Regions from separate parts of the Homo sapiens genome. Here region 1 is linked to region 2. The links come from fine-mapping of genetic effects on gene expression. A gene starts in region 2. The other region holds a variant in brackets. All regions are shown on one strand. Distances are between the middles of the regions.

Region 1 (12,811 bases), 22 kb after region 2:
TTAACATGGTTAATCCATGTTGTCATTAACACATCATAATCCATGTTAAGTGGACAGGATTTCATTCTTTTTTATGGCCAAATTGTATTCCATTAAGTATATTCCACTGAGTATATATATATCTCTCTCTCTTCAAAATCTACTTTATCTGTTGATGGACACTTAGGTTAATTCCATATCTTGCCTATGGTGAATAGTGCTGTAAAACATGGGAATGCAAATATTTCTTTGACATACCAATTTCATTTCCTTTGGATATATACTCAATAGTGGGATTGCTGGATATTATGGTGGTTAACTTTTCATTTGTTGAGGAACCTTCATACTGTTTTCCATAATGGCTGTACTAATTTGCATTTCTACCAATCATGTATAAATTCCTCTTTCTCTACATCTTTACTATCATTTGCTATTTTATGACTTTTTGGTAATAGCCATTCTAATTGGAATGAGATGACATCTCATTGTGGCTTTAATTTGTTTTTTATCAATGATTGGTGATGTTGAGTATTTTTTCATATAACTATTGGGCATTCATGTGTCTTCTTTTATGAAATGTCTATTCAGATCTTTTGCCCATTTTCAAATCACACTTTGTTTTTTACTCTTGAGCTCCTCTTGTGTTTTAGTTATTAGTCCCTTGTTAGACGCGTAGTTTGTGAATATTTTATTTCACTCTGCAGGCTGTCTCTTCACTTCATTGATTGTTTTCTTTGCGGCATAAAGCCTCTTTAGTTTGATATAATTCCATTTGTATATTTTTGCTATTTTAGAATTCCTTCTTTAAATGTTTAGTAGAATTCACCTGTGAAGGCATCAAGTCCTGGGCTTTTCTTTAATGGGAGACTTTTTATTATTGATTCAATTTCCTTATCTTTTTATTGGCCTGTTGAGGTTTTCTACTTCTCCATGATTCAGTCTTAGTAGGTTTGTATGTGTCTAGGGATTTTTCTGTTTGTTTTTTTTTTCTGTTTTTTAATTTTTTGGTTTGTATTTGTTCATAACAGTCTCTAAGGATCCTTTTTGTGATATCAGTGGTGATGTCTCCTCTGCCATCTCTAATTTTATTTGAGTCATCTCTCTTTTTTCTTAGTCTGGCTAAGGCTTGTTGATGTTGTTTGTCTTTTCAAAAAACAAACAAATTTTCCTAATCTTTTGTATTTTTGTCTTTTTTATTTATTTTTGCTCTGATATTTATTATTTCCTTCTACTAATTTTGGTTTTAGTTTGTTTTTGTTTTTCTAGTTCCTTTAGGTTTAATATCAGGTTGTTTATTTGAGATCTTTAAATTTTTTTGATGTAGATATTTAATGCTATAAACTTCCCTCTTAGAATGGCTTTTGCTGTATCCCATAGGTTTTGGTATGTTGTGTTTCCATTTTCTTTTGTCTCAGGAAATTTTTAAATTTTGTTTTTATTTCTTCATTCACCCAATGACTGTTTAGGAGCATGTTGTTTAATTTCCATGTATTTGTAAGTTTTCCAAAGTTCTTTCTTTCTGTTACTAATTTCTAGTTCTATTGCATTGTGATCAGAAAAGATATTTGAAATTATTTTGATTTTAAAAAAAATTGTTGAGTTTTGTTTTGTGGCCTAACATAGGATTTAACCTGAAAAATGTTCTGTGTGCTTCTGAGAAGAATTTGTCTTGTGTAGCTGTTGGATGAAATGTTCTGTAAATGTTGGATCTAGGATGTGATTTAATTTTAATATTTCTTTGTTGATTTTCTATCTGGATGATCTGTCCATTGCTGAAAGTCTCCTATTATTATTTTATGCAGACTATCACTCCATTTAGGTCTATTAATATTTGCTCCATATATTTAGGTGCTCTGATGTTGGGGCATATATATTTATAATTGTTTTATCCTATTGCTGTATTGACCCCTTAAGTATTATATATGGTCTTATCTCTTTTTGCAGTTTCTGGCAAAAAAAAAAAAAAACTGCAAAAAGAAACAAGACCATAATGTTTATTTTATCTGATATAAGCATAGCTACTCCTAGTCTTTTTTAGTTTTCATTTGCATGAAATACTTTTTCCTTTTGTTCAATTCAAGTCTACGTGTGTCCTTATAGTTGAAATGAGTCTCTTATAGGCAGCATATAATTAAGTTAAAAAAAATCCATTCAATCATTCTACGTCTTTAATTGCAGAATTTAGTCCATTTACATTCAAGGTAATTATTAATAGGTAAGGGCTTAACACTGCCATTTTGTTACCGATTTTCTACTTGTTTTGTACATTTTTTTCCCCTGCTTTCACTTTTACAGTTTTTATTTGTGGTTTTCTCTAGTAGTATATTTTGATTCTTTGTGTTTTAATTTTAGCATATCTATTATAGGTTTTTGCTTTGCAGTTACCACAAGGCTTATACAAAATTATATAATTATAACAAGTTATTTTAAATGATAGCAACTTGACACTGATCACAAAGAAAAGAGAAGAAACAGAATAATCTGGTACAATTCAACTCTCCTTCCACGTTTTGATTTTTGTCATGATTTACACTTTTATTTTGCCCACCTCTTAACAAATTATTGTAGTTATTATTTTTGATAGGTTTTTTTTAGTTTTCATACTAAAGATATAAGTAAGTGGTTTACATGCCACAATTACAGTACTAGAGTAACAATCACATTAATGCCCTTTTCTTTAAGTTCAAAAAACTCCATTTAGCATTTCTTGTAGGAGATAGTGATGAATTCCCTCAGCATTTTTTTTTTTTGCCTGGGAAAGTCTTTTTATCTCAACTCATTTCTGAAATATAGCTTTTCTGGGTAGAGTATTCTTGGACAGCAGTCTTTTTTTTTTTCCTTCAGCATTCTGCATATATCATCTCAATCCTTTCTGGCCTGCACATTTTCAGCTACAAGTCTGCTTCCAGGCATATTGGATCTCCCTTATATATTATTTGCTTCTTTTTTTCTTGGTGCTTTCAGGACGCTCTATTTGTCTGCTCTTTGAGAGTTTATTATAATTTTTCTTGGGATATTCTTGTTTGGGTTTAATTTGATTGGTGACAAGAAATAATGTTAAAATAATAAAAATAGCATATTCACTTCTTATGTCTTTCATAACAAGATATCACAAACTTAGGCACTTAAGAAAAGAAATTTATTGTCTCACAGTTCTGGAAGCTAGAAGTCTGAGATCAATTTATTGAAAAGGACTTGACCTCACTGAAGTCTGTAGGGAAGAATCTATTCCAGACACCTCTTCTCACTTCTGGTAGATCCTTGGGTATAGTTTCCCAACTGTAATCTTCACATGGCATTTTTCCCCACGTGTGTGTCTCTACATTCAAATTTCCCCCAACTATTTTTTTTTTTTTAGATAGAGTCTCGCTCTGTCACCCAGGCTGGAGTGCAACCTCTGCCTCCTGGATTCAAACTATTCTCCCATCTCAGCCTCCCAAGTAGCTGGGATTACAGGCACCCACCATCATGTCAGGCTAGTTTTTGTATTTTTGTATAGACAGGGTTTCATCATGTTAATCAGCCTGGTCTTGAACTCCTGACCTCAGGTGATCCACCTGTCTTGGCCTCCCAAAGTGCTGGGATGATAGGCATGAGCCACCACGTCTGGCCTCAAATTCCTCCTTTTTTATAAGGGCACCAGTCATATTGAGTGAGGGGTCCCACTCTACTCCAATATGACCTTGCCTTAACTAGTAACATGTGCAACAACACTGTTTCTGAATAATGTCACATTCTGAGGTATTTAGAGTTAAGACTTCAACATATAAATTTTCTTTGGTGGGGGGACACAATGTAACCCATAATTAATGGTGAGATTTCTTAAATTTTTTAATTCACCCCTTAACTTTCAAAGATGCCATTTACCACAGGTCTAAAAAGACCAAGTGAGAGTAGCAATTTTCAAAACTCCCTTTGGATCTGCACAGGCAGCAGGACCTTTTACAGAGTGAGTGTGATTCGCTAGAAATACTGACTTATAAATAGCTGATGGTGTAATCCCATTTTTGGGTATATACTCAAAGGAATATAATTCATTCTACTATAAAGACACATGCACATGTTTGTCTATTGCAGCACTATTCACAATAGCAAAGACATGGAACAAACCTAAGTGTCCGTCAACAGTAGACTGGATAAAGAAAATGTGGTACATATATACCATGGAATACCATGCAGCCATAAAAAAAAACATGTCCTTTGCAGCAACATGGGTGGAGCTGGAAAACATTATTCTAGGCAAACTAATGCAGGAACAGAAAACCAAATACCATATGTTCTCACTTATAAGTGGGAGCTAAACTACAAAAACACATGGACACAAAGAACTACAGATGCTGGGGCCTACTTGAGGGTGGTGATTGGGAGGAGGGAAAGGATTAAAAAAAACCTATGGAGTACTATGCTTATTACCTGGGTAACTAAATAATATGTACACAAAACCCCTGTGACACACTGTTTGCTATATAACAATCCTGCACATATACCCCTAAACCTAAAATAAAGTTAAAAAATAAATAAATAAATGCTGATGGTCAGAGGTTCAGCTTGCAATGGTGCATAGAGGACATACAAAGTAATTTTGATTTTTTCTGAACGTTTGTTTTTGTTTGTTCTTTTTCAATTTATTGTTTCTGTTTTGTTTTGTTTTTCCAGAAAAAAAAATCTCAAGGAAAAGGCATAAAAATGATTGCTACACAAAAGTGACCAAATTTTAAGAAGCCTTCATGAGCTGATTGGTGGGGAAATTCAGAAAAAAAAATACAGGAAAAGAACACACCAGAAGGGTTTTTTTCCCTACAACCAGCAAGAACATATATTAGATACATGAATCTCAATTATAATTATGGCATTAATTTGCATTTTATTTCAAAATTAACTTGTGGGGACATGTAATCTCTTGAGCAATCTGATATTTTTGGGAAGTCCTTTAAAAAGTTACAAATTTATCAATAAATTACTAGTAGATAAGATGATTCAGAAACAAAAGAAAATCACAGAATTAGGATGTGGCTGGCTGGTGTATGAAGCACCATGTGATGAATTCATAAAGTTGCAAAAGTCAAAACAATACTGTACATGCAACCAGAAATCAAAATAAATCCAGAAATAGAGACCTATATAAATGCATTTAATACATGATACTTTTGACATAATAAGCCATTGGAAAACGGAAAGATTAGATACTAAATAACATTGACTATCTCTTTGTAAATACAGTCACTAAATGATGTTAGTTACTTTTCCATGGTGGAATTTTAATTACTTTTTCTTTGTAATTTTTCTCTCTGTATATTTTAAACAAATAGCTGGTATAGTTTACAATATTATAAAGATATTGTTCAAATTGAAGGGCAAAGGCCAGGTTCAGCAATTTTCAAACTGTATGTACATTTAATAAAATAACTATAAATTAAAAAATTATATTTCAAATGATGTGACTAATAAATGAAAGTACATATAGTAGTAAAGTAATTTCAGGCAAACCTATATAACCAAAATATAAACTTTCATTTTAAACAGCAAAGATTTTAAGTGCTAATGATTCTCAGAGTGGGTGAAGATACACTGAATGTTGGGGTGATCAGACCCAACGCCAGGTCGTCGGGGCGATGAAGTCTGGCGGAGTCAAAGGAATGAGAAAAAGACAATTTGAGAGAGAAAGTGGGACCGGGGGCCATCACAAGTGTGGAGGCTGCGAAGGCCCCAAGCTCTGGGAGCCCATGCTATTTATTGGTGCTCAAACAAACAAACAACTGGTGGTGAGGTGTCGGGGGAAATTCAGCCAGATGTCGGGCAAAATTCACCCCCGATATTTCACATAGGTTCTTTTCTACTTTCCCAAAGCATCGACCAGTTTGAGAAATAAAGGGACGGAGTACAAAAGAGAGAAATTTCAAAGCTGGGCATCTGGGGGAGACGTCACATGTCGGTAGGTTCCATGATG[T/C]CCCCTGAGCCATAAAACCAGCAAGGTTTTATTAGGGATTTTCAAAACAGGAGGGAGTGTTCGAATAGGGTGTGGGTCACAGAGATCATGTACTTCACAAGGTAATAGAATATCACAAGGCAAATGGAGGCAGGGCGAGATCACAGGACCACAAGACGGGTGAAATTAAAATTGCTAATGAAGTTTCAGGCACCATTGTCATTGATAATATCTTCTCAGGAGACAGGGTTTGAGAGCAACTGATCTGACCAAAATTTACTAGGCGGGAATTTCATTATCCTAATAAGCCTGGGAGCGCTATGGAAGACTGGGGCTTATTTCATCCCTACAGTCTCAACCATAGAAGATGGTCACACCCAAGGGGGCCATTTTAGAGGCCCACCCTCAGGTGCGCGTTCTCTTTCTCAGGGATGTTCCTTGCTGAGAAAAAGAATTCAGCGATATTTCTCCCATTTGCTTTCAAAAGAAGAGAAATATGGCTCTGTTCTGCCTGGCTCAACAGCAGTCAAAATTTAAGGTTATCTCTCTTGTTCCCTGAACATTGCTGTTATCCTGTTCTTTTTTCAAGGTGCCCAGATTTCATATAGTTCAAACACACGTACTCTACAACTTGTGCAGTTAATGCAACCATCACAGGGTCCTGAGGCAACATACATCCTCCTCAGCTTACGTGATCACAGGATTAAGAGATTAAAGAGAGAGCGCCAAGATGGCCGAATACGAACAGCTCCGGTCTACAGCTCCCAGCGTGAGCGACGCAGATGATGGGTGATTTCTGCATTTCCATCTGAGGTCCCGGGTTCATCTCACTAGGGAGTGCCAGACAGTGGGCGCAGGACAGTGGGTGCAGCAAACCATGAGTGAGCCGAAGCAGGGCGAGGCACTGCCTCACTTGGGAAGCACAAGGGGTCAGGGAGTTCCCTTTCCTAGTCAAAGAAATGGGTGACAGACAGCGCCTGGAAAATTGGGTCACTCCCACCCTAATACTGCGCTTTTCCGATGGGCTTAAAAAACAGCTCACCAGGAGATTATATCCCGCACATGGCTCAGAGGGTCCCACGCCCACGGAATCTCACTGATTGCTAGCACAGCAGTCTGAGATCAAACTGCAAGGCAGCAGCGAGGCTGGGGATGGGGTGCCCACCATTGCCCAGGCTTGCTTAGGTAAACAAAGCAGACAGGAAGCTCGAACTGGGTGGAGCCCACCACGGCTCAAGGAGGCCTGCCTGCCTTTGTAGGCTCCACCTCTGGGGACAGGGCACAGACAAACAAAAAGACAGCAATAACCTCTGCAGACTGAAATGTCCCTGTCTGACAGTTTTGAAGAGAGCAGTGGTTCTCCCAGCACGCAGCTGGAGATCTGAGAACCGGCAGACTGCCTCCTCAAGTGGGTCCCTGAACCCTGACCCCCGAGCAGCCTAACTGGGAGGCACCCCCCAGTAGGGGCAGACTGACACCTCACATGGCTGGGTACTCCTCTGAGACAAAACTTCCAGAGTAACGATCAGACAGCAGCATTCACAGTTGATGAAAATCCACTGTTCTGCAGCCACCGCTGCTGATACCCAGGCAAACAGCATCTGGAGTGGACCTCTAGCAAACTCCAACAGACCTGCAGCTGAGGGTCCTGTCTGTTAGAAGGAAAATTAACAAACAGAAAGGACATCCACACCAAAAACCCATCTGTACATCACCATCATCAAAGACCAGAAGTAGATAAGACCAAAAAGATGGGGAAAAAACAGAGCAGAAAAACTGGAAACTCTAGAAAGCAGAGCACCTCTCCTCCTCCAAAGGAACGCAGTTCCTCACCAGCAACGGAACAAAGCTGGATGGAGTATGACTTTGATGAGTTCAGAGAAGGTGGCTTCAGATGAACAAACTACTCTGAGCTACAGGAGGAAATTCAAACCAAAGACAAAGAAGTTAAAAACTTTGAAAAAAATTTAGATGAATGTATAACTAGAATAACCAATACAGAGAAGTGCTTAAAGGAGCTGATGGAGCTGAAAGCCAAGGCTCAAGAACTATGTGAAGAATGCAGAAGCCTCAGAAGCTGATGCAATCAACTGGAAGAAAGGGTATCAGTGATGGAAGATGAAATGAATGAAATGAAGTGAGAAGGGAAGTTTAGAGAAAAAAGAATAAAAAGAAATGAACAAAGCCTCCAAGAAACATGGGACTATGTGAAAAGACCAAATCTACGTCTGATTGGTGTGCCTGAAAGTGACGGGGAGAATGGAACCAAGTTGGAAAACACTCTGCAGGATATTATCCAGGAGAACTTCCCCAATCTAGCAAGGCAGGCCAACATTCAGATTCAGGAAATACAGAGAATGCCACAAAGATACCCCTCGAGAACAGCAACTCCAAGACACATAATTGTCAGATTCACCAAAGTTGAAATGAAGGAAAAAATGTTAAGGGCAGCCAGAGAGAAAGGTCGGGTTACCCACAAAGGGAAGCCCATCAGACTAACAGTGGATCTGTCGCCAAAAACACTACAAGCCAGAAGAGAGTGGGGGCCAATATTCAACATTCTTCAAGAATTTTCAACCCAGTATTTCATATCCAGCCAAACTAAGCTTCATAAGTGAAGGAGAAATAAAATACTTTACAGACAAGCAAATGCTGAGAGATTTTGTCACCACCAGGCCTGCCCTAAAAGAGCTCCTGAAGGAAGCACTAAACATGGAAAGGAACAACCGATACCAACCACTGCAAAATCATGCCAAATTATAAAGACCATCCAGGCTAGGAAGAAACTGCAACAACTAACAAGCAAAATAACCAGCTAACATCATAATGACAGGAACAAATTCACACATAACAATATTAACTTTAAATGTAAATGGACTAAATGCTCCAATTAAAAGACACAGACTGGCAAATTGGATAAAGAGTCAAGAACCATCAGTGTGCTATATTCAGGAAACCCATCTCATGGGCAGAGACACACATAGGCTCAAAATAAAAGGACGGAGGAAGATCTACCAAGCAAATGGAAAACAAAAAAAGGCAGGGGTTGCAATCCTAGTCTCTGATGAAACAGACTTTAAACCAACAAACATCAGAAGAGACAAAGAAGGCCATTACATAATGGTAAAGGGATCAATTCAACAAGAAGAGCTAACTAACTATACTAAATATATATGCACCCAACACAGGAGCACCAAGATTCATAAAGCAAGTCATGAGTGACCTAGAAAGAGACTTAGACTCCCACACAATAATAATGGGAGACTTTAACGCCCCACTGTCAACATTAGAGAGATCAATGAGACAGAAAGTTAACAAGGATATCCAGGAATTGAACTCAGCTCTGCACCAAGCAGACCTAATAGACATCTACAGAACTCTCCACCCCAAATCAACAGAATATACATTCTTTTGAGCACCACACCACACCTATTCCAAAATTGACCACATACTTGGAAGTAAAGCTATCCTCAGCAAATGTAAAAGGACAGAAATTATAACAAATTGTCTCTCAGACCACAGTGCAATCAAACTAGAACTCAGGATTAAGAAACTCACTCAAAACCGCTCAACTACATGGAAACTGAACAACCTGCTCCTGAATGACTACTGGGTACATAATGAAATGAAGGCAGAAATAAAGATGTTCTTTGAAAGCAACGAGAACAAAGACACAACATACCAGAATCTGTGGGACACATTCAAAGCAGTGTGTAGAGGGAAATTTATAGCACTAAATGCCCACAAGAGAAAGCAGGAAAGATCCAAAATAGACAACCTAACATCACAATTAAAATAACTAGAAAAGCAAGAGCAAACACATTCAAAAGCTAGCAGAAGGCAAGAAAAAACTAAAATCAAAGAAGAACTGAAGGAAATAGAGACACAAAAAACCCTTCAAAAAATTAATGAATCTAGGAGCTGGTTTTTTGAAAGGATCAACAAAATTGATAGACCGCTAGCAAGACTAATAAAGAAAAAAAGAGAGAAGAATCAAATAGATGCAATAAAAAATGATAAAGGGGATATCACCACCAATCCCACAGAAATACAAAGTACCATCAGAGAATACTACAAACACCTCTATGCAAATAAACTAGAAAATCTAGAAGAAATGGATAAATTCCTCGACACATAGAGCCTCCCAAGACTAAACCAGGAAGAAGTTGAATCTCTGAATAGACCAATGACAGGCTCTGAAATTGTGGCAATAATCAATAGCTTACCAACCAAAAAGAGTCCAGGACCAGATGGATTCACAGCCGAATTCTACCAGAGGTAGAACTGGTACCATTCCTTCTGAAACTATTCCCATCAATAGAAAAAGAGGGAATCCTCCCTAACTAATTTTATGAGGCCAGCCATCATCCTGATACCAAAGCGTGGTGGAGACACAACCAAAAAAGAGAATTTTAGACCAATATCCTTGATGAACATCGATGCAAAAATCCTCAATAAAATACTGGCAAACCGAATCCAGCAGCACATCAAAAAGCTTATCCACCATGATCAAGTGGGCCTCATCCCTGGGATGCAAGACTGGTTCCATGTATGCAAATCAATAAACATAAGCCAGCATATAAGCAGAACCAATGACAAAAACCACATGATTATCTCAATAGATGCAGAAAAGGCCTTTGACAAAATTCAACAATGCTTCATGCTAAAAACTCTGAATAAATTAGGTATTGATGGGAGGTATCTCAAAATAATAAGAGCTATCTATGACAAACCCACAGCCAATATCATACTGAATGGGCAAAAACTGGAAGCATTCCCTTTGAAAACTGGCACAAGACAGGGATGCCCTCTCTCACCACTCCTATTCAACATAGTGTTGGAAGTTCTGGCCAGGTCAATCAGACAGGAGAAGGAAATAAAGGGTATTCAATTAGGAAAAGAGGAAGTCAAATTGTCCCTGTTTGCAGACAGCATGATTGTATATCTAGAAAACCCCATTGTCTCAGCCCAAAATCTTCTGAAGCTGATAAGCAGCTTCAGCAAAGTTTCAGGATACAAAATCATGTACAAAAATCACAAGCATTCTTATACACCAATAACAGACAAACAGAGCCAAATCATGAGTGAACTCCCATTCACAATTGCTTCAAAGAGAATAAAATACTAGGAATCCAACTTACAAGGGATGTGAGGGACCTCTTCAAGGAGAACTACAAACCACTGCTCAATGAAATAAGAGGATACAAACAAATGGAAGAATATTCCATGCTCATGGGTACGAAGAATCAATATCGTGAAAATGGCCATACTGCCCAAGGTAATTTATGGATTCAATGCCATCCCCATCAAGCTACCAATGACTTTCTTCACACAATTGGAAAAAACTACTTTCAAGTTCATATGGAACCAAAAAAGAGCCTGCATTGCCAAGTCAATCCTAAGCCAAAAGAACAAAGCTGGAGGTATCATGCTACCTGACTTCAAACTCTACTGCAAGGCTACAGTCACCAAACAGCATAGTACTGGTATCAAAACAGAGATATAGACCGGTGGAACAGAACAGAGCCCTCAGAATAATGCCACGTATCTACAACTATCTGATCTTTGACATACCTGAGAAAAACAAGCAATGGGGAAAGGATTCCCTATTTAATAAATGGTGCTGGGAAAACTGGCTAGCTGTATGTAGAAAGCTGAAACTGGATCCCTTCCTTACACCTTATACAAAAATTAATTCAAGATGGATTGAAGACTTAAATGTTAGACCTAAAACCATAAAAACCCTAGAAGAAAACCTAGGCAATACCATTCAGGACATAGGCATGGGTAAGGACTTCATGTCTAAAAGAGCAAAAGCAATGGCAACAAAAGCCAAAATTGACAAATGGGATCTAATTAAACTAAAGAGCTTCCGCACAGCAAAAGAAACTACCATTAGAGTGAACAGGCAACCTACAGAATGGGAGAAAATGCTTGCAACCTCCTCATCTGACAAAGGGCTAATATCCAGAATCTACAATGAACTCAAACAAATTTACAAGAAAAAAACAAACAACCCCATCAAAAAGTGGGTGAAGGATATGAACAGACACTTCTCAAAAGAAGACATTTATGCAGCCAAAAAACACATGAAAAAATGCTCATCATCACTGGCCATCAGAGAAATGCAAATCAAAACCACAATGAGATACCATCTCACACCAGTTAGAAAGGCGATCATTAAAAAGTCTGGAAACAACAGGTGCTGCAGAGGATGTGGAGAAATAGGAACACTTTTACACTGTTGGTGGGACTGTAAACTAGTTCAACCATTTTGGAAGTCAGTGTGGCGATTCCTCAGGGATCTAGAACTAGAAATACCATTTGACCCAGCCATCCTATTACTGGGTATATACCCAAAGGATTATAAAACATGCTGCTATAAAGACACATGCACACGTATGTTTATTGTGGCACTATTCACAGTAGCAAAGACTTGGAACCAACCTAAATGTCCAACAATGATCGACTGGATTAAGAAAATATGGCACATATACACCATGGAATACTATGCAGCCATAAAAAATGATGAGTTCATGTCCTTTGTAGGGACATGGATGAAATTGGAAATCATCATTCTCAGTAAACTATCACAAGGACAAAAAACCAAACACCGCATGTTCTCACTCATAGATAGGAATTGAACAATGAGAACACATGGACACAGGAAGGGGAATGTCACACACCAGAGACTGTTGTGGGCTGTGGGGAGGGGGAAGGATAGCATTAGGGGATATACCTAATGTAAATGAGTTAATGGGTGCAGCACACCAACATGGCACATGTATACATATGTAACAAACCTGCACATTGTGCACATGTACCCTAAAACTTAAAGTATAATAATAATAAAATTAAAAAAAATAACCAGGCATGATGGTGTGCCCCTGTAGTCCCAGCTACTCC
Region 2 (12,811 bases):
AGGTTAAATGTAATAGGATGTAGTAAAAAATTGATTTTATAGGTTTCATGTAATTCTTATGAAAATTCCAGGAAGTTATTTTTTAGATATAAACATCTTAATTCTAAAATGTATGTGGGAAGAAACAGGCCATAGAATAGCTAAGTCAATTAGACTCCCACACAATAATAGCGGGAGAATTTAACACCCCACTGTCAATATTAGACAGATCAATGAGACAAAATTAACAAGGATAGCAAGGACTTCAACTCAGCTCTAGACCAAGTAGACCTAATTGACATCTACAGACCTCTCCACCCCAAATCAACAGAAGATACACTCTTCTCAGCACCACATTGCATTTATTCTAAAATTGACCACACAATTGGAAGTAAAACACTCCTCAGCAAATGTAAAAGAATGGAAATCTTAACAAACAGTCTCTCAGACCACAGTGCAATCAAATTAGAACTCAGGATTAAGAAACTCACTCAAAACCGCAGAACTACATGGAAACTGAACAATCTCCTCCTGAATGACTACTGAGTGAATAATGAAAAGAAGGCAGAAATAAAGATGTTCTTTGAAACCAATGAGAACAAAGACAAAATGTACCAGAATCTCTGGGACACATTTTAAATCAGTATATAGAGGGAAATTTATTGCACTAAATGCCCACAAGAGAAAGTGAGAAAGATCTAAAATCAACACCTTAACATCACAATTAAAAGAACTAGAGAAGCAAGAGCAAACAAACTCAAAAGCTACCAGAAGACAAGAGATAACTAAAATCAGGGAGAATTGAAGGAGATAGAGACATGAAAAACCCTTCAAAAAATCAATGAATCCAGGAGCTGGTTTTTTGAAAAGATCAGCAAAATAGATAGACCACTAACCAGACAAATAAAGAAAAGAGAGAAGAATCAAATAGATGCAATAAAAAATGATAAAGGCGATATCACCACTAATCCCACAGAAATACAAACTACCATCAGAGAATACTATAAACACCTCTACGCAAATAAATTAGAAAATCCAGAAGAAATGGATAAATTCCTGGATACATACACCATCCCAAGACTAAACCAGGAAGAAGTCGAATCCCTGAATAGACCAATAACAAGTTCTGAAATTGAGGCAGTAATTAATAGTCTACCTACCAAAAAAAGTCCAGGACCAGATGGATTCACAGCCAAATTCTGCCAGAGGTACAAAAAGGAGCTGGTACCATTCCTACTGAAACTGTTCCAAAATATAGAAAAAGAGGGAGTCCTCCCTAACTGATTTTATGAGGCTAGCATCATCCTGATACCAATCCGGGAAGAGACACAACAACAACAAAAAAAGAAAATTTCAGGCCAATATCTCTGATGAATATTGATGTGAAAATCCTCAATAAAATAATGGCAAACAGAATCCAGCAGCACATCAAAAAGCTTATCCACCACTACGAAGTCAGCTTCATCCCTGGGATGCAAGGCTGGTTCAATATACACAAATCAATAAATCTAATCCATCACATAAACAGAACCAATGACAAAAACCACGTGATTATCTCAAGAGGTGCAGAAAAGGCCTTCGACAAAATTCAACACCCCTTCATGCTAAAAACTCTAAATAAACTTGGCATTGGTTGAACGTATCTCAAAATAATAAAAGCTACTTATGACAAACCCACAGCCAATATCATACTGAATGGGCAAAAGCTGAAAACAGTTCCTTTGAAAACTGGCATAAGACAAGGATGCCCTCTCTCACCACTCCTATTCAACATAGTATTGGAAGTTCTGGCCAGGGAAATCAGGCCAAAGAAAGAAAGAAAGGGTATTAAATGAGGAAAAGAGGAAGTCAAATTGTCTCTGTTTGCAGATGACATGATTGTATATTTAGGAAACCCAGTCTCAACCCAAAATCTCCTTAAGCTGATAAGCAACTTCACCAAGTCTCAGGATACAAAATCAATGTGCAAAAATCACAAGCATTCCTATACACCAATAACAGACAGCCAAATCATGAGTGAACTCCCATTCACAATTGCTACAAACAGAATAAAATACCTAGGAATCCAACTTACAAGGGATGTGAAGGACCTCTTCAAGGAGAACAGAAAGCCACTGCTCAAGGAAATAAGAGAGTATACAAACAAATGGAAAAGCATTCCATGCTCATGGATATGAAGAAACAATATTGTGAAAATGGCCATACTGCCCAAAGTAATTTATAGATTCAATACTATCTCCGTCAAGCTACCATTGGCTTTCTTCACAGAACTGAAAAAAAAATACTTTAAATTTCATATGGAGCCAAAAAACAGCCCGCATAGCCAAGACAATCCTAAGCCAAAAGAACAAAGCTGGAGGCATCACACTACCTGACTTCAAACTATACTACAAGGCTACAGTAACCAAAACAGCATGGTACTGGTACCAAAACAGATATATAGACCAATGAAATAGAACAGAGCCCTCAGAAATAATGCCACACATCTACAACTATCTGACCTTTGACAAATCTGACAAAAACAAGCAATGGGGAAAGGATTCCCTATGTAATAAATGGTGTTGGGAAAACTGGCTAGCCATATGCAGAAAACTGAAACTGGACCCCTTCCTTACACTTTATACAAAAATTAACTCAAGATGAATTAAAGACTTTAACATAAAACCTAAAACCATAAAAACCCTAGAAGAAAACCTAAGCAATACCATTCTGGACATAGGCATGGGCAAAGACTTCATAACTAAAACACCAAAAGCCATGGCAACAAAAGCGAAAATTGACAAATGGGATCTAATTAAACTAAAGAGCTTCTGCATAGCAAAGGAAACAATCATCAGAGTGAACAGGCAACCTACGGAATGGGAGAAAATTTTTGCAATCTATCCATCTGACAAAGGGCTAATATCCAGAATCTACAAAGAACTTTAAAAATTTACAAGAAAAAAAAAACCCCCATCAAAAAGTGGGCAAAGGATATGAACAGACACTTCCCAAAAGAAGACATTTATGTAGCCAACAAATGTATGAAAAAAAGCTCATCATCACTGGTCATTAGAGAAATGCAAATCACAAAGACAATGAGATACCATCTCATGCCTGTTAGAATGGAGATCATTAAAAAGTCAGGAAACATCAGATGCTGAAGAGGATGTGGAGAAATAGGAACGCTTTTAGGTGTTGGTGGGAGTGTAAATTAGTTCAACCATTGTGGAAGACAGTGTGGTGACTCCTCAAGGATCTAGAACTAGAAATACCATTTGACCCAGCAATCCTGTTACTGGGTATATACCCAAAGGATTATAAATTATTCTACCATAAAGACACATGCACACATATGTTTATTGCAGCACTGTTCACAATAGCAAAGACTTGGAACTAACCCAAATGCCCATCAATGATAGACTGGATAAAGAAAATGTGGCACATATACACCATGGAATACTATGCAGCCATAAAAAAGATGAGTTCATGTCTTTGTAGGGACATGGATGAAGCTGGAAACCATCCTTCTCAGCAAACTGACACAAGAACAGAAAACCAAACACTTCACATTCTCACTCATAAGTGGGAGTTGAACAGTGAGAACACATGGATGCAGGGAGGGGAATATCACACACTGGGGCTTGTCTGGGGGTGGGAGGCTAGGGGAGGGATAGCATTAGGAGAAATACCTAATGTAGATGATGGGTTGATGGGTGTAGCAAATCACCATGGCACATGTATAGCTATGTAACAAAACTGCACGTTCTGCACATGTATCCCAGACTTAAAGTATAATAATAAAAAAAAACTAAAAAAATAATAAGGTCAAGTATGGTCAAGTACATAGAGATAGGGAATGGAATGGTGTTTACAAGGGCTGGGGTGTGAGGGGTGGGAAGAAGTGGGGAGATGTAAGTCAAAGGATACAAAGTAGCCTATATGTAGGATGAACAAGTTGAAGTATCTCATGTACAACAGGAGAACTGTAATTAATAACAGTATCTTGTGTTTTTGATAAATGAATAGATTATATGTGCTTTTGCCAAAGGGGGGAATGGGTAACTTTTCCCATTTGTGAGATGATTGATAGGTTAATTGGTTCCACTATAGTTAGCATTTTATATATCTCTATATATCTTTATCTATATATATACATATGTATCTTATAACATCATGTTGCTTATCTTAAATATGCACAATAACATTGATTTTAAAAAAACAAACAATTGTATATACATTCTATGGAATAATATTCAGCAATAAAAAGGAACAAAGTATTCATATATACAGCAACTTAGATGAATATCTGTAGAGTTTCTGATTTTTCAAAAGCCAACCTGAGAAGGATATATACCATATTATTCTCCTAGAAGGAGGGATATCTGTGGAGATGTAACTGTTCACTATCTTGATTGTGATGATGGGCACACTAAATTACACACATAAAATTGTATAGTACTATATGCATACACGGATACAGATAAACCAACAAGGGAAATATTAATAAAATCAGTAGATTGTATCAGTATCAAGATCCTGGTATTATACTACATTGTATCATACTAGCATCTTGATGTTGATACAATATTATACTACAGTTTTGTAAAATATTACCATTAGAGGAAACAGGGTGATGAGTATATGATTACTCCTTGTGTTATTTCTTGCAACTGCATGTAAATCTATAATAATCTCAAAAAACATTTCATTAAAAATCTAAAACATGGGAAAGTTATCTGATGCAAACTATAAGAAACCTGGCATAGCCATGTTAACGTTAAAAAATATATAATTCAAAATGAGGAGCATCACTAGAGATAGAGGCATAGTTTATAACAATAAAATAAACAATTTATCTGGATTCCCAAAACTAACATGGAAAAGATCTTCCAATGTGCTATATATAAATGAATAAATAAGCCCAAGGAAATAAACTCCTATATGAGCTGAACACTGCCTTTCTCTTCTATTTATATTTCATATAATTTAAAGTTATGTGAGTTCCTCATGTGATTTAACCTGAAGCATAATATCAGTTAACAAAAGATAGTAATGGCATCACATTCCAATTTGCTTTAAAAAGCAAAACATGGTAATTGGGATTTGCATTTATTCATCATTTTAATCTAAATTCAGTACTAAAGGAGAAAAACCCTGACTTTCTGCTCTTTTCATGGAAAAATTATAAAGCAGTTTACTTTTGTGTCTCTCAAATTTCACTTCCTAGAAATAACAACACTGTTTAACCGATTTCTTTTAGCTTATTTAGAGAACATGTACATGCCAAAGTCCAATGTAAATTTCATGAGTCACTTGAGGACAAACATATTTGGAGAGAGTAAACCTTTAAACGGATTTTATTGTCAACAGCTAGAAGTATCTCTATGAAATAATGATCTCTATGACTACAAAATAACATCTACCTCCTGATAGCAAAAGAACTGAGGAAGCTCTTTCCACTACGGCTGTATTGCACTGGTGAGTCCGGGCCCATGGATGAGAAATTGATGCGAGGATCAATACAAGCTTAATTTGAATTAATAAAAGGAAATATTTTCTCCCTTTGAACTTATCTCCGTAAAGCCATTGTGCCTCCTCTTGGGGGTCACGTGTTCACAATCAATGGCCTTTGAGGAGCTCTTGAGTCAAGTTGGAGGCCTTGGGAGATTTCAGATGCTTCATCTGGTTTTTATTCTTCCCTCTCTCATGTTATTAATCCCTCATATACTGCTAGAGAACTTTGCTGCAGCCATTCCTGGTCATCGTTGCTGGGTCCACATGCTGGACAATAATACTGGATCTGGTAATGAAACTGGAATCCTCAGTGAAGATGCCCTCTTGAGAATCTCTATCCCACTAGACTCAAATCTGAGGCCAGAGAAGTGTCGTCGCTTTGTCCATCCCCAGTGGCAGCTTCTTCACCTGAATGGGACTATCCACAGCACAAGTGAGGCAGACACAGAACCCTGTGTGGATGGCTGGGTATATGATCAAAGCTACTTCCCTTCGACCATTGTGACTAAGGTAAAGGGTCCTGTTAACCTGTTCTGGATACACAATCCAGGTGTTTAGAAGAAAATAAACATGCTTTAAGCCTCTAGTTATTGTGTAGATAGTGTAGTCAGCACTCAGACACTCTTTTGGCAAATAGTGATTGCTCTTTTTTTTTTTTTTTTTTTTTTTTTTGAGATGGAGCTTGACTCTTGTTGCCCAGGCTGGAGTGCAATAGTGAGATCTCAGCTCACTGCAACCTCCACCTCTGAGGTTCAAACAATTCTCCTGCCTCAGCCTCTGAAGTAGCTGGGATTACAGACATGCATCATGACACTCAGCTAATTTTTTTTCTTTGTATTTTTAGTGGAGACAAGGTTTCACCATGTTGGCCAGACAGATCTCAAACTCCTGACCTCAGGTGATCCACCCGAAAGTCCTGGGATTGCAGATGTGAGCCACCGCACCTGGCTACTTATTTTTTAATTGTCAGGCACTTACATTGAATTTGAGGCAATGAACTCAACCAACTAGATATAAATACAGCTATCACAAAACTAGCTTGAAGAGAAGACTAATGATTAGAAAAATATTCTTCCTGGTCACTTGTTCTCAGCCTAAGTTGCAAATTGGAAACATCTGTGTTATTTTTAAAATCTGCCTGCTTTGGCTACATGTTACAGAAGCAAATCAGAGTGGATTTCATACTAGCATCAATGGTTTAAAAAGTCTCCTTAATGTGTTTAATGTGTAACAAAAATTGAGAACCACTGAGGTATGCAGTGCTGAATGAATATAAAGACAGACATTAACATAACCTGGAAGGTTTTGTGTGAGGATTTCCAGAGAAATCCATGCTTAAGCCAAGACTTGAATGGTATAGGTAAGAAAATGTAGTAAAAAGAGGCTAGAGAGTGTGTCCACTGAAAGCTATTGCAGCAAGTGAACAATGAGAAGTCAAAAGCTGCTGTGAAGCTATGCTGTATTGGCTTCCTTCTCTTCCAGTGGGACCTGGTATGTGATTATCAGTCACTGAAATCAGTGGTTCAATTCCTACTTCTGACTGGAATGCTGGTGGGAGGCATCATAGGTGGCCATGTCTCAGACAGGTGAGTGTCTCCAGATCAGGGTTATCATTACTCTGCAGTGTTTTTATCAGCTTACAATTAATTTTTTTCACAAAGAAGTGTTATTGAGTTACAATATGCAATTTACACTGTTGGTGCTGCTCTGTTCCCCAGAGAGTTAGATACAGAAATGAATTACAGTGAGTTTAGTGAGTGCCATTTTGTTGCCACAGAGATCTCTGAACAGCATCTCTGTATAGGATACTGAATACAAAAATATCAAAATAGAGAATTCATCCTCCTTGAAGATACAAATATATGAAATGGTGTGTAGACCTTGGCTAGGGATATTGTGTTAAGTCCCTCCTGGACTCTGTGAGCTAAATGCTTGTGGGCTCCCCAGCCTGGTTGTCATTATCATAATTACCCCACTGTAATTAGTAGGAGTATTAGTCTATTCTCATGCTGCTAATAAAGACATACCTGGGACTCGGTAATTTATAAAAGAAAGAGGTTTAATCAACTCACAGTTCCACATGGCTTGGGAGGCCTCACAATTTTGGTGGAAGGTGAATGAGGAGCAAATTCATGTCTTGAATGGTGGCAGGCAAGAAAGCATGTGCAGGGAACTCCCCTTTATAAAACCATCAGATCTCATGAGACTTACTCACTACCAGGAGAGCATCATGGGAAAAACCAGCCCCCATGATTCAATTACCTCCCACTGGCTCCCTCCCATGACACATGGGGATTATTACAATTCAACGTGAGATTTGGTTGGGGACACAGAGCCAAACCATAACAATATGAATTTTAAAATAATAGTTTTTAGCTCTGTGAAGAATCTCAATGGTAGTTTAATAGGAATAGTATTAAATCTATAAATTGCTTTGGGCATGTATTAGTCCACTCTCACCCTGCTGTGAAGAACTGCCTGAGGCTAGGTAATTTATAAAGAAAAGAGGATTAATTGACTCACAGTTCAGCATGACTGGGGAGACCCCAGGAAACTTACAATCATGGTGGAAGGGGAAGTAAACACATTCTTCTTCACATGGTAGCAGGAAAGAGAAGTGGAGGGTGAAGGGGGTAAAAGCCCCTTATAAAACTATCAGATCTCATGAGAACTCACTCACTATAGTGAAACCAGCATGGAGATAATGCCTTCATGATTCAATTACCTCTCACCAGGTCCCTCTCATAACACATGGGGATTATGGGAACTACAATTCAAGATGAGATTTGGGTGGGGACACAGCCAAATCATATCAGGGCAGTATAGCCATTTTTATAACATGGACTCTTTCTACCTATAAGCATGGAATGCTTTTCCATTTTTGTGTGTGTCATCTTTGATTTTTTTTTTTTTTGAGTAGTGTTTTGTAATTCTCCTTGTAGAGATCTTTCACCTCCCTAGTTAGCTGTATTCCTAGGTATTTTATTCTTTTGTGGCAATTGCGAATGGCATTGCTTTCCTTATTTGGCTCTCAGCTTGACTGTTATTGGTGTATAAGAATGTTAGCGATTTTTGCACGTTGATATTCTATCCTGAGACTTGCTGAAGTTGTTTATCAGCTTAAAAAGCTTTTGGGCTGAGACTATGGGGTTTTATAGATACAGTATCATATCATCTGCAAACAGGGATAGTTTGACTTCCTCTCTTCCTATTTGGATGCTCTTTATTTCTTACTCCTGCTTGATTGCCCTAGTTAGGACTTCCAATACTGTGCTGAATTGGAGTGGTGTCTTGTGCCAGTTTTCAAGACGAATGCTTTGAGCTTTTGCTTATTCAATAAGATGTTGGTTGTGGGTTTGTCATACATGGATCTTACTTTTTTGAGGCATGTTCCTTCAATACCTACTTTATTGAGAGTTTTTAACATGAAAGGTTGTTGAATTTTATCAAAAGCCTTTTCTTCATTTATTTAGATAATTGTGTGGTCTTTGTCTTTAGTTGAGTTTATGTGATGAATCACATATATTTATTTACAAATATTGAACCAACCTTGCATCCCAGGGATAAAGCATACTTGATCATGGTGGATAATTTTTCTGATATGCTGCTGGATTTGGTTTGCCAGTATTTTGTTGAGGATTTTTGCATTGATATTCACCAAAGATATTGGCCTGAAGTTTTTGTGTTTTTTTTTTTGTTGTTGTTGTTGTTTTTGTAATCTCTGCCAGGTTTTGGTATCAGGATGAAGCTGGCCTAATAGAATGAGTTAGGGAGGAGACCCTCCTCCCTAATTTTTTGGAATAGTTTCAGCAGGGATGTTGCCAGATCTTCTTTGTACTTCTAGTAGAATTCAGCTGTGATTCTGTTTGGTCCTGGGTGCTTTTTAAAATTATTACTTATTTATTTATTTATTATTATTATTATTATTATTATTATTATTATTATTTTGGTTGATAGGCTTGTTGGGTGTTTTTCTGAGGTGATTAGATTTGATTCCTCTTTCTGTCTTTATCATTTGTTTATTGGTTCTCCTAGTACTTTATAGTTTTACTTGCTTTCATTATGGTAACTGCCATCTCTCTACTTCAAGATGTAAGACTCCCTGGAGAATGTTTTTGGCTGTTTCTGTGGTGGTAATTCCTTTAGTTTTCACTTGTCTGTGAAAGATTTTATAGTTCTTTCATTTCTGAAGCATAGAAGAATTTTTCTGGGTATAATATTCTTTTCTGACAATTTTTTCTTTCAGGACTTTGGATATATTATCCAATTTTCTCCTGCCCTCCAAGGTTTCCACTCAGAAATTTGCTGTTAGTCTAATAGGAATTCCTTTATGTGTGACTCAATGCTTTCTTCTTGCTGCTTTTAGTACTTTTTCTTTATCTTTGCTTTTTTGAAAATTTGACTATAATGTGCCTGCTAGGGGACCTGTTTGAGTTGACTCTATTTGGCATTCTTTGAGCTTCTTGTACCAAGATATCCATGCTTATCCCAAGACTTGGGAAATTTTCAGCTATCATATCATAAAGTATCATAAAATATATTTTCTAACCGTTTCACTTCCCTTCTTCTGGAATTCTCATAATGCAAATATTTATTCACTTACTGGTGTTTATACATTCGGTAGGTTTTCTTCATTCTTTGTAATTCTTTTTTCTTTCATCTGCCTCTATTATTTTTAGCAAACTGTCTTTAAGCTCAGAAATTATTTCTGCTTGTTCCAGTCTATGGTTGAAGCTGTCAGTTGCATTTTTTTTTACTTCATTCATTGAATATTCAACTGTAAGATTTCTGTTTGGTTCTTTTTTATATCTATGTCTTTGTTAAATTTTTCATTTAAATAATGTATTGTTTTTGTAATTATATTGAATTGTCTATAGTTTCTTGTATCTCCCTGAGTTTCTTTAATATTGTTATTTTGAATTCATTTTCTGGCATTTTGTATATTTGTCTATAATTGGGGCCGGTTACAGGAAAATTATTGTGGTCCTTTAAATGTGTCAAATTTCTTTCCTTTGTAATGTTTGATTTGTCTCTACATTGATTTCTTTGGTTGAGTGGAAAGGTTGCCTCTTACAATTTTATGAAGAGATTTCATAAGGAAAGGCTTATTTGTATGAATGGGTCTTGTGTCGTCAGTTTTATGGGGTGTGTCAGGCTTTGGTTCTAGGTGGGCACAGTAGTATTCTTTCTGTGTAGTTTCTTCAGCTTTAACCTAGGCTAGTGACATGTGCTAGTGTCTTAGTGGCATAGGCTGCAAGAGTTGGTTATGGTTGTGGTAAGGCTTTGCTGGGGGTCGGCTTGCCAGGCTGTTTCTCAGATGTGGGGTGCATGCATGCACGTGGTGATTTGGCCAAGTTAAGCCAAGTTAGACTTATGGAGCTATTATTCTGGCCAGGAACACATACATGAGGTTGCTCTGCCAGGCTGGTGGCAAGCCTGCCAGTAGTCCCCCACAGGGCTGTTTTCTCAGACCCAGGACATGGGCACACAGCTACTCAGCCAGCCTGGAGGTCTGAGTGCCAGCGAAGCTTTCAGTTGTTCTGACATCCTGATTGCAGGTGCAGGGCCATTGGGCATACCAAGGGCTTGTCTGCAGGGGGTGGAGCATCATGGAGCTATCCTCAGGTTCTAGAAAGAGGAGCATAGGAGCAGGCTTTACTGGCTGGAAGGCTGTTAGTTGCATAGAGTTCCAGGGTCTTTCCCCCTTGGGGAAGGGTATGCAGCAGTTTAGCTGGCTCAACAGTGGGTTCACCCTGGGCAGAATTGCCAGATTGTTTTTCCAGATGAAAATGAGGGTGGTGGGATTTGTTTCTCTGCTTTGTAGGACCAGAGCCACCACTGATCCTAAGCCCAGACTCTGCACTGCTGGGGTTGTGGTGTTCAGTCACTGATGTGGGCTTCATGGAATGAAGATAGAGTTCCAGTGCTGGAGAGGTGCAGTGGCTACTGGCCCCCAGGACAGGATGCACTCCAGAGGTGGCTCTGGTCTCAAGATGGTGCCATGCTGCAACAGCTTGACTCACAAGGGATAGGCGTGACCTGGGGAATAATACTTTGTGCCCCTAATCTGGGCAATGCAGTTGGGTAAATTTTCGGCAGCTCTCTTTTGGACTCAGGACTTGTGCGGACTATGAAATTCTCCTATGGTAAGAACTGTTGCTGTTTGTGGTGGCAATGGAGACTGGTGGGTTCTTCTGCTACAGAGGCTGGGTGCCTCCATGCTGCCCTCCTGGACTTCCAATCTCCACAGGTGTGTCTCCACCCCCTCGCTGCATTGCAGTGCTCTCCCTTCCACACTCTAGTGAAATCTTACCTGTTTATTTGTTGCCTTGGTTTTTTTCTCATTGGTGTGTGGGTTGGGGGGAATGAGTGTCAGGAGTCTCTACTTAGCTATCTTGCTGATACCACTCCTCTAGATACTATTTAAATATATCTAGAGTTCCATTTCAAATGTAGAACAGTTCCCAACCCAAAACTTTGTTTGTTAATATTACTGGGCATATACAATAAGCACACCCCATTTAGTCCAAGTTGTCCCCTTTAAGACCTGTCTTTACAAACACCCTGTAAAATGCCAAATTTCCTTTCCCTTTTCAGCCTTCACTTTCTCTCTCCCTTCACTCTACTTTCTACGTATTTTTTTCCTCTGAGAAGTTTCTGTACTTTTCTCTTTCTGGGTTGTGGCTCTCTTATATTTTGTTCTAGCTGGAACACAGAGGCCTATAAACCCAGATCAACAATGGGAGTCCATGTTTCTTTATGAGAGCCTCTTAGGCAACCCAACAGAAACTTTGATGCATTGTTCCACTGATGTATCTTATACATAAGTTTAGCCTTGGCCTGCATGGTCTTAGAGACCCAAATACATATTTAGCTCCCTTGTATTTCATATACTATGTAGACTCTCTACTATGCTGGATACATATGTCAATATAGTAGATACTTATTCATATTACAATTTCCAACATTGTAGCTTCTTTTCTACAGTATCTGTTGGTATCAGAGGCCTTCTTATTATTAAGTGATGAAGGTTTGATTTTGATATTGTTAGTGTATATTATAAACAGGGAGGGTTACTTCTGAGGATATTTCTGTGTCAATTTAGCTCTTGATATTTCAGGATTTAAAGTACACAAAATAATTAGTTAAAATATTATCAAATTTTAGAGTGAGCTTTCATTTTCTTAAGTTTTTACCATAAATTATTATTGCTGTCATAATCTAACATGACTCGCTGTTTCTCAGGTTTGGGCGAAGATTTATTCTCAGATGGTGTTTGCTCCAGCTTGCCATTACTGACACCTGCGCTGCCTTCGCTCCCACCTTCCCTGTTTAC

Direction of the effects. Alleles are on the strand shown, and positions count from the first base shown. SD is a standard deviation of normalised expression in the study named.
As copies of T replace C in region 1, the expression in esophagus muscle of the gene that starts at base 5,321 in region 2 goes up (moderate effect, 0.43 SD a copy in GTEx).

What was found.
Region 1: its variant is fine-mapped to the expression of SLC22A10 in esophagus muscle (GTEx, PIP above 0.99).

Annotation. Positions count from the first base shown.
Region 1 is chr11:63,306,372-63,319,182 of GRCh38, forward strand. It overlaps SLC22A10 (solute carrier family 22 member 10 (gene/pseudogene)), which reads left to right. Exons shown (of 10, transcript NM_001039752.4): 10 at 4,636-5,412. The coding sequence ends at 4,663. Among named protein-coding and RNA genes, the nearest start is that of SLC22A10, 23 kb to the left of the region's middle. The variant T/C (reference allele first, on the strand shown) is at 5,927.
Region 2 is chr11:63,284,583-63,297,393 of GRCh38, forward strand. SLC22A10 (solute carrier family 22 member 10 (gene/pseudogene)) reads left to right here and starts at 5,321. Exons shown (of 10, transcript NM_001039752.4): 1 at 5,321-5,985; 2 at 6,958-7,061; 3 at 12,721-12,811. The coding sequence starts at 5,584.